Linked DNA regions of Homo sapiens. The protein of the gene in region 2 interacts with the protein of the main gene of each other region in a pairwise test. Each region holds a gene or a part of one and is shown on either strand. Other genes may lie near its edges. The genes, in order: ZFHX3, TRIM54 and ELOA.

Region 1 (3,751 bases), on a different chromosome or scaffold from region 2:
TATCTTTCAGGGGTAGGAGCTTTTTTTCTTCCACCTACAAAGTATCAGTAAGAATCTGGAAATGCTTCAGGGCTCAGAGCAGACCCTTACTTAAGAAATTATTTTTATTGCAGAGTTGTAACAGTGTCATCTTAAAAAGTAAATATTTAAGTGACTAAGCAACATTTTGTAAAAGTGTAGGGAACTGGCTTGAATTATTTAAAGGGGAAGAAAGTGAGCTGTCTTTATAAAACTCACCTTTTGGCCAGGCATGGTGGCTCATGCCTGTAATCCCAGCACTTTGGGAGGCTGAGGCAGGCAGATCACTTGAGGTTGGGAGTTCGAGACCAGCCTGATCAACATGGAGAAACCCCGTCTCTACTAAAAATACAAAATTAGCCGAGTGTGATGGTGCATTCCTGTAACTCCAGCTACTCAGGAGGCCGAGGCAGGAGAATCGCTTGAATCTGGGAGGGGGAGGTTGCAGTGAGCTGAGATTGGGCCATTGCATTCTAGCCTGGGCAACAAGAGCGAAACTCCGAAACTCCATCTCAAAGCAAACAAACAAACAAACAAACAAACACTCACCTTTTAAGAGTAACTCACTTGTTTCTCAGCTCTAAGGATTTAGCCTTGACTTACAAGTAGGCAGCAATGATTCTGGTCTGAACAAACTTATATAAACTCCATCTCACCCTCACTCGTACTGCACACTGAAGATGCCTGTCAGTAACCTGAAGAAGTACAGTATGTGCTGTGGTTTATGCTTTCATTTGTTATTAAAATGATTGCTTGCTGTTAGCCTGGCCTATTTCTGTGATGTTTGGGCCTGTTGGCTTGCTCTGGTTCCTAAGGCTGGTGCAATTAACCAGGATGGGGGCGTTACTGTAAAAACACAACAGGAAGGCAGATTCCATTACAGTGAACCTCATAGGGGTATCCAAATGCTCTGGTATGAGAATTTGGTGGTAATGGTTATTATTAGAAATCACAGCACAGCTCAGAACCACCGTCCTCTGCCTGAGTTAAAAAACTATGGTCAGGGGAAATGGGAACCCAGTTTTAATAGAATCTAGGCAAGGGAATTCCTTGGCAGGAGCTAGTTTAAATCATAAAGGGCGCCTGTTCTGTCCAAAGCACAGTGTCCTGTGTCCTCAGGCCACTCAGATTGAGAAAGGAGCACACAGAAGCTACGGTTGTGTCAAACCGCCCCGAGGGAGAGACCCAGGCAGAAATCTTGGCTCATTGGCAAGCCACTTTGAAAATCCAGATTAAAGAGAAGCACTACAAAATCAACAACTGTCAGAGGGCTTTTCTCTATGATTTAAAGTTGACTGCCAGATTGATCTCTTTGAACATGTGCAAAGTGGCAATCAGATGTTGGAGGGCTTCTTTGGGCTAATATGGTAAATGACTTTGATATGGACAGAAACTGAGGACAGAGGTGCAGAGCAAGGCTTAGTGCCGATTGACAGCAGCACTGAGCTGAAGCTTCAGAAGTAGGGAAACGACTGGAATGTTTCTGGTTTTCATTCTTTGGGCCAGGGGACAGGTGGGTGAGGACAAGGCCGTGGTCTAGGCAGTGATGGGGGTGTCTCTAGAGAGTTATTTGCCCAAGGAAAGTACTTTGGCTTTTAACATTTAAAGGGGATTTTTTCTTTCTTTGACGTTTCTGCCTTTCAGCCTTCATTCATGGAGTTTCTTGCTTTTACAAGAATAAGGGCTCAAATAAAAACAGGGAGGGAGACATAGAAAGTTTGCGAGATGGCAAATTCAGCCCCATTTTGAAGCAAGACTTCTGTTTTGTTGGTTTTAACTCCAGCCCGGGCCTCTTAGCAAAATGCCTGGGCTTCATCTGCCTTTTGGGTGACCCCCTCTCCCTGTCCATCAGAGGGTCACCACAGCAGTCTCAACATGAGGATTACTGTGTGGGGGGTTTGATGTGTACCTTTCCAGAGGGGCCTTAGCTGGCTTGCTGTGTCCTGGAGGTCTTAGGTGGTTCTGCTGTGTGTTCTTTGAGCTTTGGTATTAACACATGTGCTGCCTCTGAGATTTGTCCATCCTTTTCCCTCCCTGGAGTCAGGTCTAAAGCTTCCAGTGAGGCGGGCAAAACATCTGCCGCACTCCCACCCCTACTCCTGGCTGCTGGTGGTTTGGGATGAAGCCACTGAAACTCCCTTGCAAGGCCACACCTTGAGAAGATGGGCCGGTGCTGGGATGCCTCTCACTTTCTATTCTGCTTGGTTTCTGGGAGGAAGCTAATGACATAAGGGGCCTAAAGGCTTTCTTAACTGGTGACCTGGAGTTTAATTGTAAGTGGGTCTTTCGGGGCAGCAGTTAGGAATGTATGGATCACCTTCAGTCATCTGCAGGGAGACTTGGACTGGAAGTGGGAGAACTGGCTCCACTGGACTCTGAAAAAGGCTGTGGAGTTTTCATCTGCTGCTGATTTCATCCACTGTCCCAAAAGTTATCTTGGCCACAAACCTTTGATCTGGGAGTGAGACCCCTCGCCCGATGCTTCTAGGGCAGGAGTCAGTGACTGCCTATACCCGCTGTTCTGTGTAGATGGGAGAGGGTGTTAGTTATTGAGTAGGGCTGAGTACTTGGGGTGATTTGGGGTGGTTAGGCATGATTGGGGCTTACACACTGGAGGGGTCATGTGTAGGCTTCTTGATGGGGTTCTTTCAGGAAGGAGGAGGCAAAAGAACAGTTTTGCTTGTTTCTTGGTTGTTCCTGACTCCATCCAGGAGTGTGACTGGAGAAAAATTCTTCTGAGTGTATCGGTTAGGCTGGCTTTTGGATAGATGGTCCCCGGTGCCCATTTCTATCATAGGCTCTGCATTTCAGTAGGAAGATTCTAGTTCAGAGGCGACTGCCTCTGTCTTCTCATTTGAATCTCCTTAGTGGAGAGGCAGGAGGCAGATTAGCCGAGTGCAGAAAGACCAAGGGGCTTAATCTGATAGTTGATCTCAGCCCTGCATCCCCTGAAAAAGTCATATAAGTGCCTGTTCAAATATGGAAGTCTGTCTCCCTTCAGTATGCAAACATCGCTTTTCAGAAGCATTTAAACTCCTGAAAGTCTATAAAAACCACATATGTGTAGACATGAACTGAGCTGCTCCCCATGCTTCCAGTCTCCTGAGTGGCCTATTTCTGATGACTTCTCCCTTCCCAACATCTTTGTCCCGTGGAAGTTGCTGAAGAACACATGGGTGCCTTTCTTCTCCATCTCCCAACTTCTCTTTTTTCTTTTTTTAAACAATTGTTCTTAACTACTCAAGAAGCAATGCAAGCCTCTTCCACCATTTAAGGCCCTGCTTCCTAAAATGCTCTTTGGCTCAAGGCCTTGGTTCTTAATGTACATTTGGCCTTGACTGGAGGAATGGTTTCTGCTTCCCTTTTAACAGCTCCGCTTTTTTTTGTGGAGTATCTGCATCAGCGTTAAAGTGTCAGGTCAACTTTTGGACACTTTAGAAGAGGCTCATGGATTTCAGTGTGTGCGGCAGGAGGTTGGTGTCACTACTCAAGCGACTGCTTTTAAATGCCATCTCTGTTCTGATGGAATCTTGAATAGTGTCCCCTTATGTTATTTGATAACGTAATTGAGATGGGCATTGATGAAGACTTTCAGTCTGTGTAACTGACTATATGAATGTGTGTTACCTGGGCCCCTGTTGGTTTGTTTTTCATAAGATAGTATTTTGCCCACTTAAAAAATGTTGTTCAAGTAAAGAATGGCAGAAATGACGGTAGTAGGGTCACCTCAGCC
Region 2 (3,751 bases):
ATAGGACTTTTCCTCTACCTTCAAACCACTTAGGAAGAATACCCTTAGAGCATTGCCTAGAAAGTTAACGGTTATCAAAGTGATACCAGTATATCACTTAGAATTTGTAACATGTAAACATACTGTTTTCAAGCAGTATAGGAGTTCATATCATGAAAAGCAAATCTGCTATTCACCTCAGACCCTCAGTTGTCTCACCAGATAGAAGTAACTATTACCAACTTTCTTGGGAATACTTCCAGAAAATTTCCACAAATCGGCACATTTGCATGTATATGTGTTCTCAGGCGAGACCCATCGCCCCCCACCTGCCTTTGTTCACTTACTCGCTGTGGGTGATTGTTCCATATCCACCATTCAGATTTATGTCTTCGTTTTTAAATAGCTGTGTAGTTTTCATTGTTATGACTGGACCACAGTCTATTTAAATAATCTGTCCTCTAAAACATTTAGATGGTTTTCTGTGTTTTGTTGTCCTAAAAACTGCCGTGATGGACAACAAACAAGAGTTTTTGGGAATTGTGATTTTATAAGACCAAGTTAACTAGACAGCCAGGAAGCAAAATTTGAAAACAATTTATTTAAAAATACTGGCTACGTAAGGTGGCTCATGCCTGTAATCCCAACACTTTGGGAGGCTGAGACAGGAGGATCACTTGAGCCCAGGAATTTAAGACCAGCCTGGGCAACATAGTGAGACCTCATCTCTACAAAAAAGAAAATACTGTTAGTTGAACAGTATTAAGGGGTTGGGAGGAAATCATCCATAATCTTACCTCCCCAACACAGTTATTTTTATTTTTGCATATTATTTTTTTTTTTTTGAGATGGTGTCACATTATGTTACCCAGACTGATCTTGAACTCCTGGGCTCAAGTTATCTTCCTGCCTCAGCCTCTGGAGTGCACACCACCAAGCCCAGCAATTTTTGCATATTACATTCAAGCCCATGTCCGCAAACATTTTTACATAGTGGCCATCTTAATGTAATTCTTTTTAGAGCTGTAACAACTCTTTCTCTCTGAATTGAAACAGAATGAAACACCAAGACACCACATTAACCCCCTCTAATTTCTTCCTCCTTCTTTCCCCACACTTGCACCCACTCAGCTACCAAGAACTTCCACTAAAGGAAAGCTGTTGGTGTGGGAATTTGACACAAACATCTTCCCATGTGTTTCTGTATTTGTAAATTCTATTCACTCCTAAACGGCTTTAAAGCAAGCCTTCAGTTTATTTTTATACCTGCCTCCACTTCACTGTGGGCACTTGTTTTTGAGCCTGCAACCTGTTGTAATTTAACAGACAACCAAAAGGCCTTGTAAGAAGGTTGTTCTGGAACAGCTTTTCTGGAGGAGGTCTGTCTACAGAGGGACTTGCAGAGGGGGGATTGTCAAGAAAGAAGCCTCCTTCTCTAACAAGGGGCAGTCTGAGAGAGATGACTTTTGTTTCGCGCCACCCAAATTCCATTTCTTTATCCTTTAGTTGTTAGGACCAGGTGTCATCAGGTACAGGCCTGCCAGAGAAGATCCTACCCAGCCTGCCTCCTCAACCACTTCTACCCATTCTGAAGGCACCAGGATTTCTTCAGTCCAACTTTGGGCAGGTCTCCCTGATGCAAAATTGGTTCACTAAAATTTTGTGAATTGCATTAAATTTGTAGCAGGGTTAGGGCTCTTACTTCTGTAGGGAAGATCTTGATTTAGTGAGAACGAAAACCTAGACTAAGGCTTAGCACTCCTGGATTCTCCTCTGACGGGTTTCTTTGTTAATTTGCCACACAATGCATATCAGGCTATTTCACCACTTCAAGCCTGTTTACATAACTATAAATGAAAAGGGTGTTTTCTTTCTTTCTTTATTTTTGAGACAGGGTCTCATTCTATCACCCAGGTTAAGTGCAGTGGCATGATGATGGCTCACTGCAGCCTCGACTTCCCAGCCTCTAGCCATCCCTCCTACCTCAGCCCCCTGAGTAGCTGGGACCACAGGTGTGCACCACTATGCCTGGCTAATTTTTTTGTAATTTTTTGTAGAGACAAGGGTCTCTCTATGTTGCCCAGGTTGTTCTCCAACTCCTGGACTCAAAGGATCCTCCCACCTCAGCCTCCCAAAATGCCAGGATTACAGGCATGAGCCACTGTTCCTGACCGAAAAGGGTGTTTTAAACTGATTTTTTTTTTCCCAGAGACAGGGTCTCACTCTGTCACCCAGGCTGGAGTGCAGTGGCACGATCATAGTCCACTGTAACCTTGAACTCCTGGGCTCAAACAGTCCTTCTGCCTCAGCCTTTCGTGTAGCTAGGATTACAGGCATGTACCACCACACTCAGCTAATTAAAAAAAAAATGTTTTTGTACAGACAAAGTCTTACTATGTTGCCCAAGCTGGTCTCAAACTCCTGGCCTCAAGCGATCCTCTCAGTTCAGCCTCCAAAAGCTCTGGGGTTATAGGCGTGAGCCACTGCACCTGGCCTTAAACTGACCTTTAACATCTCTTGCAATTCTAACGATTTGGTTTCACAAAGTCGAAAAATATTTTTGTGGATTTCCATTTTTTGAGGGCTTTCCATTCTGTGACCAGTGTCCTAATTTGGCCCACTCTTCTGCTTATCACTCCTCCTTTCAAGCAGTAGGGCTTGGTTTACCAGCCCCTTGGGCCAAGCTCTTCCCTAGGTTCTACCGCCCATAGCTAGCCCTCTGTTTACAGTCCCTCTTATACCTGCAGCTCAGCTTTTACCAAAACCTGGATTCTTCTCAGGCGCTTCAGCTTTTCTCCAAATGTCTGGTCTTCTGCCCACCGTTTTCCCAAGGTTTTTCCAGCATATTCTGAGTGTCTGGCTCACAGAACTTGGATGGTCCATCATTCATCACTGGCCAGGCCTTCAGGTTGAGGGAAATAGCCTCCAAAAAGCCCCATTGCATCCAGAGCCTGTGTCCCAAATTAGCACCTCTCTGGATAGCCAGGGAAGAGGGAAAACATTCTGACATAAGTATGGATTTGCTAGACTAGCTGCATTTACAGAGCATCTTTCTAGATGGAACATTTCTATTAGATGCTATGGAACATTACAAAGGAAATAGAAGGCACCGTAAAGCCTAAAAGAGAGAGAGCTCATGGCATATATTCCACACAACAGCCTTGAACATAGCCTAGAATTAAATTCCATTTATTTGTTCCATTCCATCTTATCCTTCACAGTGGAGAAAGAACAGTCATTTCGTACCCTGTGGTTCTGTGTGGTCATTTCTTTTTAAGGTCTAGATTAGGATTGTTAACAGTCCTCTGTGTTTGTGCAGTGCCTTATAATTTATAGAATACATTCACAAACATGATTCCATTTGAGTTAGATCGAATGGATGTTATCTCCGTTTTACAGAAGAGAACATAGGAAACAGGTCACAGTCACACAAACAAAGGGACAGACTAAGGACATAAATCTAGGTGTTCTGTTATGTTTCCTAGAGTGATGGAATTTCCTCTACACATCACATCATTGGCACGTGAAATTTTACTTTATGGGGCTGGCTTCCTTGCATAAATGTAAGATTTAAGGAAAGAACAGGACATTTATGTGTATAATAGAACCAATCAGTTATCTCTTAGTCTTGAAATGGAAAGATAAACAGAAGCAGAAGATAGGATTTTTCTAACTGGATATTAGTCAGCTGAAAGATCTTTAGCCTAATGTAGAGACTGTCAGCTATGAAGATGTATTAAGGAAGTTGTCATGTATCCCTTAGAGTATAAAA
Region 3 (3,751 bases), on a different chromosome or scaffold from region 2:
CCTTTATCCTATGTGTTACATAGGATTTTTGTCTGAAAGAAAAAAATGTCTAATTTTCATAGCAAAAGAAGTAGAAGCCACATAAGGGTCTATCAGCAGGAGACTAACAGATAAATCATGGTTCATCTACACAGTGGCATCCTATGCCACAGTAAAAAAAAAATGTGGAAAGTCTATGCACTGACATGGAATGATCTCTCAGATGTGGCAAATGAAAAAAAGCAATGTATGTAGTGAGTATGTTATTAATTGATTCATTGGCTTAAAAGGAATAAGATACATTTGCTTTTTTTTGTTGTTGCTGTTGAGAGTCTTGCTGTGTTACTCAGGCTGGAGTGCAGTAGCTCCATCTTGGCTCACTGCAGCCTCCACCTCCTAGGTTCAAGCAATTCCTCTGCCTCAGCCTCCTGAGTAGCTGGGACTACAGGTGCATGTTGGGCAGGCTGATCTCGAACTCTTGACCTCAGATGATTCATGTGCCTTGGCCTCCTAAAGTGCTGGGATTACAGGAGCTTATTTTTAAATTCTCTGGAAGGATCTACAAAAATCTGTAGCGTGGATTGCCATTGGGAAAGGGAAGTAGGAGGCTGAAGGGGGTAGAAGGAGAGTTTTCACTGGATCACTTAGGGCCTTTTGTGTTTTTCTTGCCCTATAGCGTTCTCTTCACCCCAGGAAGAAGAAGAAGCTGGATTTACTGGGCGCAGAATGAATTCCAAGATGCAGGTGTATTCTGGTTCCAAGTGTGCCTATCTCCCTAAAATGATGACCTTGCACCAGCAATGCATCCGAGTACTTAAAAACAACATCGATTGTAAGTCACACGCTTCTCTCTAGCTCTCAAGCACATTGTAGCACTTGGACCTTATCACTGGGTGGCTTGGCTGCTACTCAGTGTCTTCACCTTTGGTTTCTCTGCAGCAATCTTTGAAGTGGGAGGAGTCCCATACTCTGTTCTTGAACCCGTTTTGGAGAGGTGTACACCTGATCAGCTGTATCGCATAGAGGAATACAATCATGTGAGTATTCTGTTTGGGTGGGAAGAGGGCAGTTTTCTGGCTTGTACCTCCAGAAATAGCTTTGTCCCTGTGACTCCGCTGTGGCTGAAGGGCAGATCAGTGGTCAGAGCATTGTTCTGGATATATTTGGTTTGCCACTGGGCCTTTAAACAAGCATGTTATTAGCACTTGCTCCTGGCACCTTAAGTGGGCCTCTTGGGCTAGGATCAGGGTGGGATTCAAAGGGAGAAGAAAAACACTTAACATCTCCCTTGAGCTTGCCTAGTCATGAAGGTAAAGGGAGAATTCTGGCAGCAGAGTAGCTGGGACCCAGGGCGGGGAAAGCACTTTGTGTTGACACTCTGACATCTGGTGATTGGCTGGATGTCTCTTAAGAAACATCAAGATTTATCCAGAATCCTCCTTAGGATGTAGGGTATACACATTTGATTGCATCAGCTGTCTCTCTTTAATTCTGAAAGTTCTATGACCTAACACCTTTTTTTTTTTTTTTGGAGATAGGGTCTACCTCTGTTGCTTCGACTGCAGTACAGAGGCCTAATCATGGCTTACTGCATCCTTGAACTCCTGGGCTTAAGTGATCCTCCCAAGTAGCTGGGACTACAGGCACATACCACCACAGCTGGCTAATATTTTTATTTTTTAGAGAGATGGACTCTCAGACTCTTGGCCTCCTGAAGTGCTGGGATTACAGGCATGAGCCAACGCGCCTGGCCAATAACTTAACATCCTTCTTAGGTTGCCCCTTTGCCATCACAGTTCAGCGTAGTGTTGGGAAGTACCTGATTTGACTTGATCGCAGTTCTACCCTTTGCTGATTTTCTAAAGGAAAAGACTGATGTTACACAGATTTTTGTGATATTCTGTCACAGCCACCAAAAGCAACTAGCATAGTGCCTCACACTTCGCATTTTTAAAATTTAGGGAGTTATTTTTTTCCTAGAATTGTGGTATTTTAACATACTACTAAGATGAAGACCAAAAAATTTTTGGGAAACTGGTCACTCCTAGGTAATTAAATAATCAGAAAAAGATATGAGGCTGGGCATGGTGACACACGCCTGTAATCCCAGCACTCTGGGAGGCCAAGGTGGGCGGATTATCTGAGGTCAGGAGTTCGAGACCAGCCTGGACAACATGGCAAAACCCCATCTCTACTGAAAATATAAAATAGCTGGGCGTGGTGGTAAGCACCTGTAGTCCTGGCTACTTGAGAGGCTGAGGCGTGAGAATCGCTTGAACCCAGGAGGCAAGGGTTGCAGTGAACCAAAATTGCACCACTGCACTGCAGTCTACACGACAGAGCAAGACTCTGTCTCAAAAAAAAAAAAAAAATATGGAAAAGTGCTTGTACACAAATGATGTCCTGGTTCTGGTTTCAGGTATTAATTGAAGAAACAGATCAATTATGGAAAGTTCATTGTCACCGAGACTTTAAGGAAGAAAGACCCGAAGAGTATGAGTCGTGGCGAGAGATGTACCTGCGGCTTCAGGACGCCCGAGAGCAGCGGCTACGAGTACTAACAAAGAATATCCAGTTCGCACATGCCAATAAGCCCAAAGGTAACAGAGACGGGAGAGCTGGGGGAGAACTGGCAGGATGAGTGTTCTGGTCAATAGCAGGGTGTTGGTGGGCTTGGCTGGTGTAGGACTGCTTGCCCCTACATCAGGTAGCAGGGTGGGTATTTCTTCTGCCACCGCCCATTCTACCCTACAAGTGGGGTTTCAGGGCACTCAAAAAGCCCGTGGATTATTTAAATAACAGTAGCATCTCTGCTCAAGAAGGCAGATGTTCATCTCCATAATTCCACAGGCCGACAAGCAAAGATGGCCTTTGTCAACTCTGTGGCCAAGCCACCTCGTGACGTCCGGAGGAGGCAGGAAAAGTTTGGAACGGGAGGAGCAGCTGTCCCTGAGAAAATCAAGTAAGATCTGTGTTCTTACCTGGCTTTTGTGTGCTATCAACCCTTAGAGGTAGCCATAGCGGCAGGAAGCAAATTGCTTTTGGTGAAAGTGAGGCAGTGCAGACTGTGGGCTCTGGAGGCAGACCTCATCAGCTCAGCACTTCCCTCACCTCCCTCAGCCTCCGCTTCTTGGACTGCAGTGCAAGGTGATAATTACCCCTGCCCTAGGGTAGTCAAGATTAAATGGAGAGCAAAGCCTGGCTTATGGGAAACATTCCCTTATGCTTTCCCTTTTCCCATCTAAACAAAAAACACATTTCTGCAATGATTGTTATTTTGTCTAAGCCACATTAGCCTTTTCAAAATACAGATTTATACCAAAACAGTGAAAAGTTAGTTGAGATTATCATTTTTTCTGAAAGGATAATGGAGACATCTCTGAGCCACCACCAGAATCCAGGGTGATAGGGTCCATTGGTCAAAGCCACAAACAGGGTGAGTCATCCTCACACAGGCCAGCTTCAGGCTGTTCATGCTCAGGGCAGATTTCTTGTGCTCATGCCTAACCAGTGTTGTCCTGTGTTGCAGGATCAAGCCAGCCCCGTACCCCATGGGAAGCAGCCATGCTTCCGCCAGTAGCATCAGCTTTAACCCCAGCCCTGAGGAGCCGGCCTATGATGGCCCAAGCACCAGCAGTGCCCACTTGGCACCAGTGGTCAGCAGCACTGTTTCCTATGATCCTAGGAAACCCACTGTGAAGAGTAAGTAACTTGGAGTTCCTGCTCAAATATTATTTCAGCACTAGTTTTTAACTCTCAATGTCATTATTCA

What was found.
Region 1: the proteins of TRIM54 (region 2) and ZFHX3 interact in binary tests that used the Homo sapiens proteins (3 or more experiments, as listed by UniProt).
Region 3: the proteins of TRIM54 (region 2) and ELOA interact in binary tests that used the Homo sapiens proteins (3 or more experiments, as listed by UniProt).

Annotation. Positions count from the first base shown.
Region 1 is NC_000016.10:73,041,412-73,045,162, reverse strand, and holds part of ZFHX3 (zinc finger homeobox protein 3), read left to right. Parts: intron 1-3,751.
Region 2 is NC_000002.12:27,285,355-27,289,105, forward strand, and holds part of TRIM54 (tripartite motif-containing protein 54), read left to right. Parts: intron 1-3,751. UniProt on the Homo sapiens protein: May bind and stabilize microtubules during myotubes formation.
Region 3 is NC_000001.11:23,753,445-23,757,195, forward strand, and holds part of ELOA (elongin-A), read left to right. Parts: intron 1-655; coding exon 656-811; intron 812-918; coding exon 919-1,016; intron 1,017-2,398; coding exon 2,399-2,579; intron 2,580-2,829; coding exon 2,830-2,941; intron 2,942-3,508; coding exon 3,509-3,681; intron 3,682-3,751. UniProt on the Homo sapiens protein: SIII, also known as elongin, is a general transcription elongation factor that increases the RNA polymerase II transcription elongation past template-encoded arresting sites.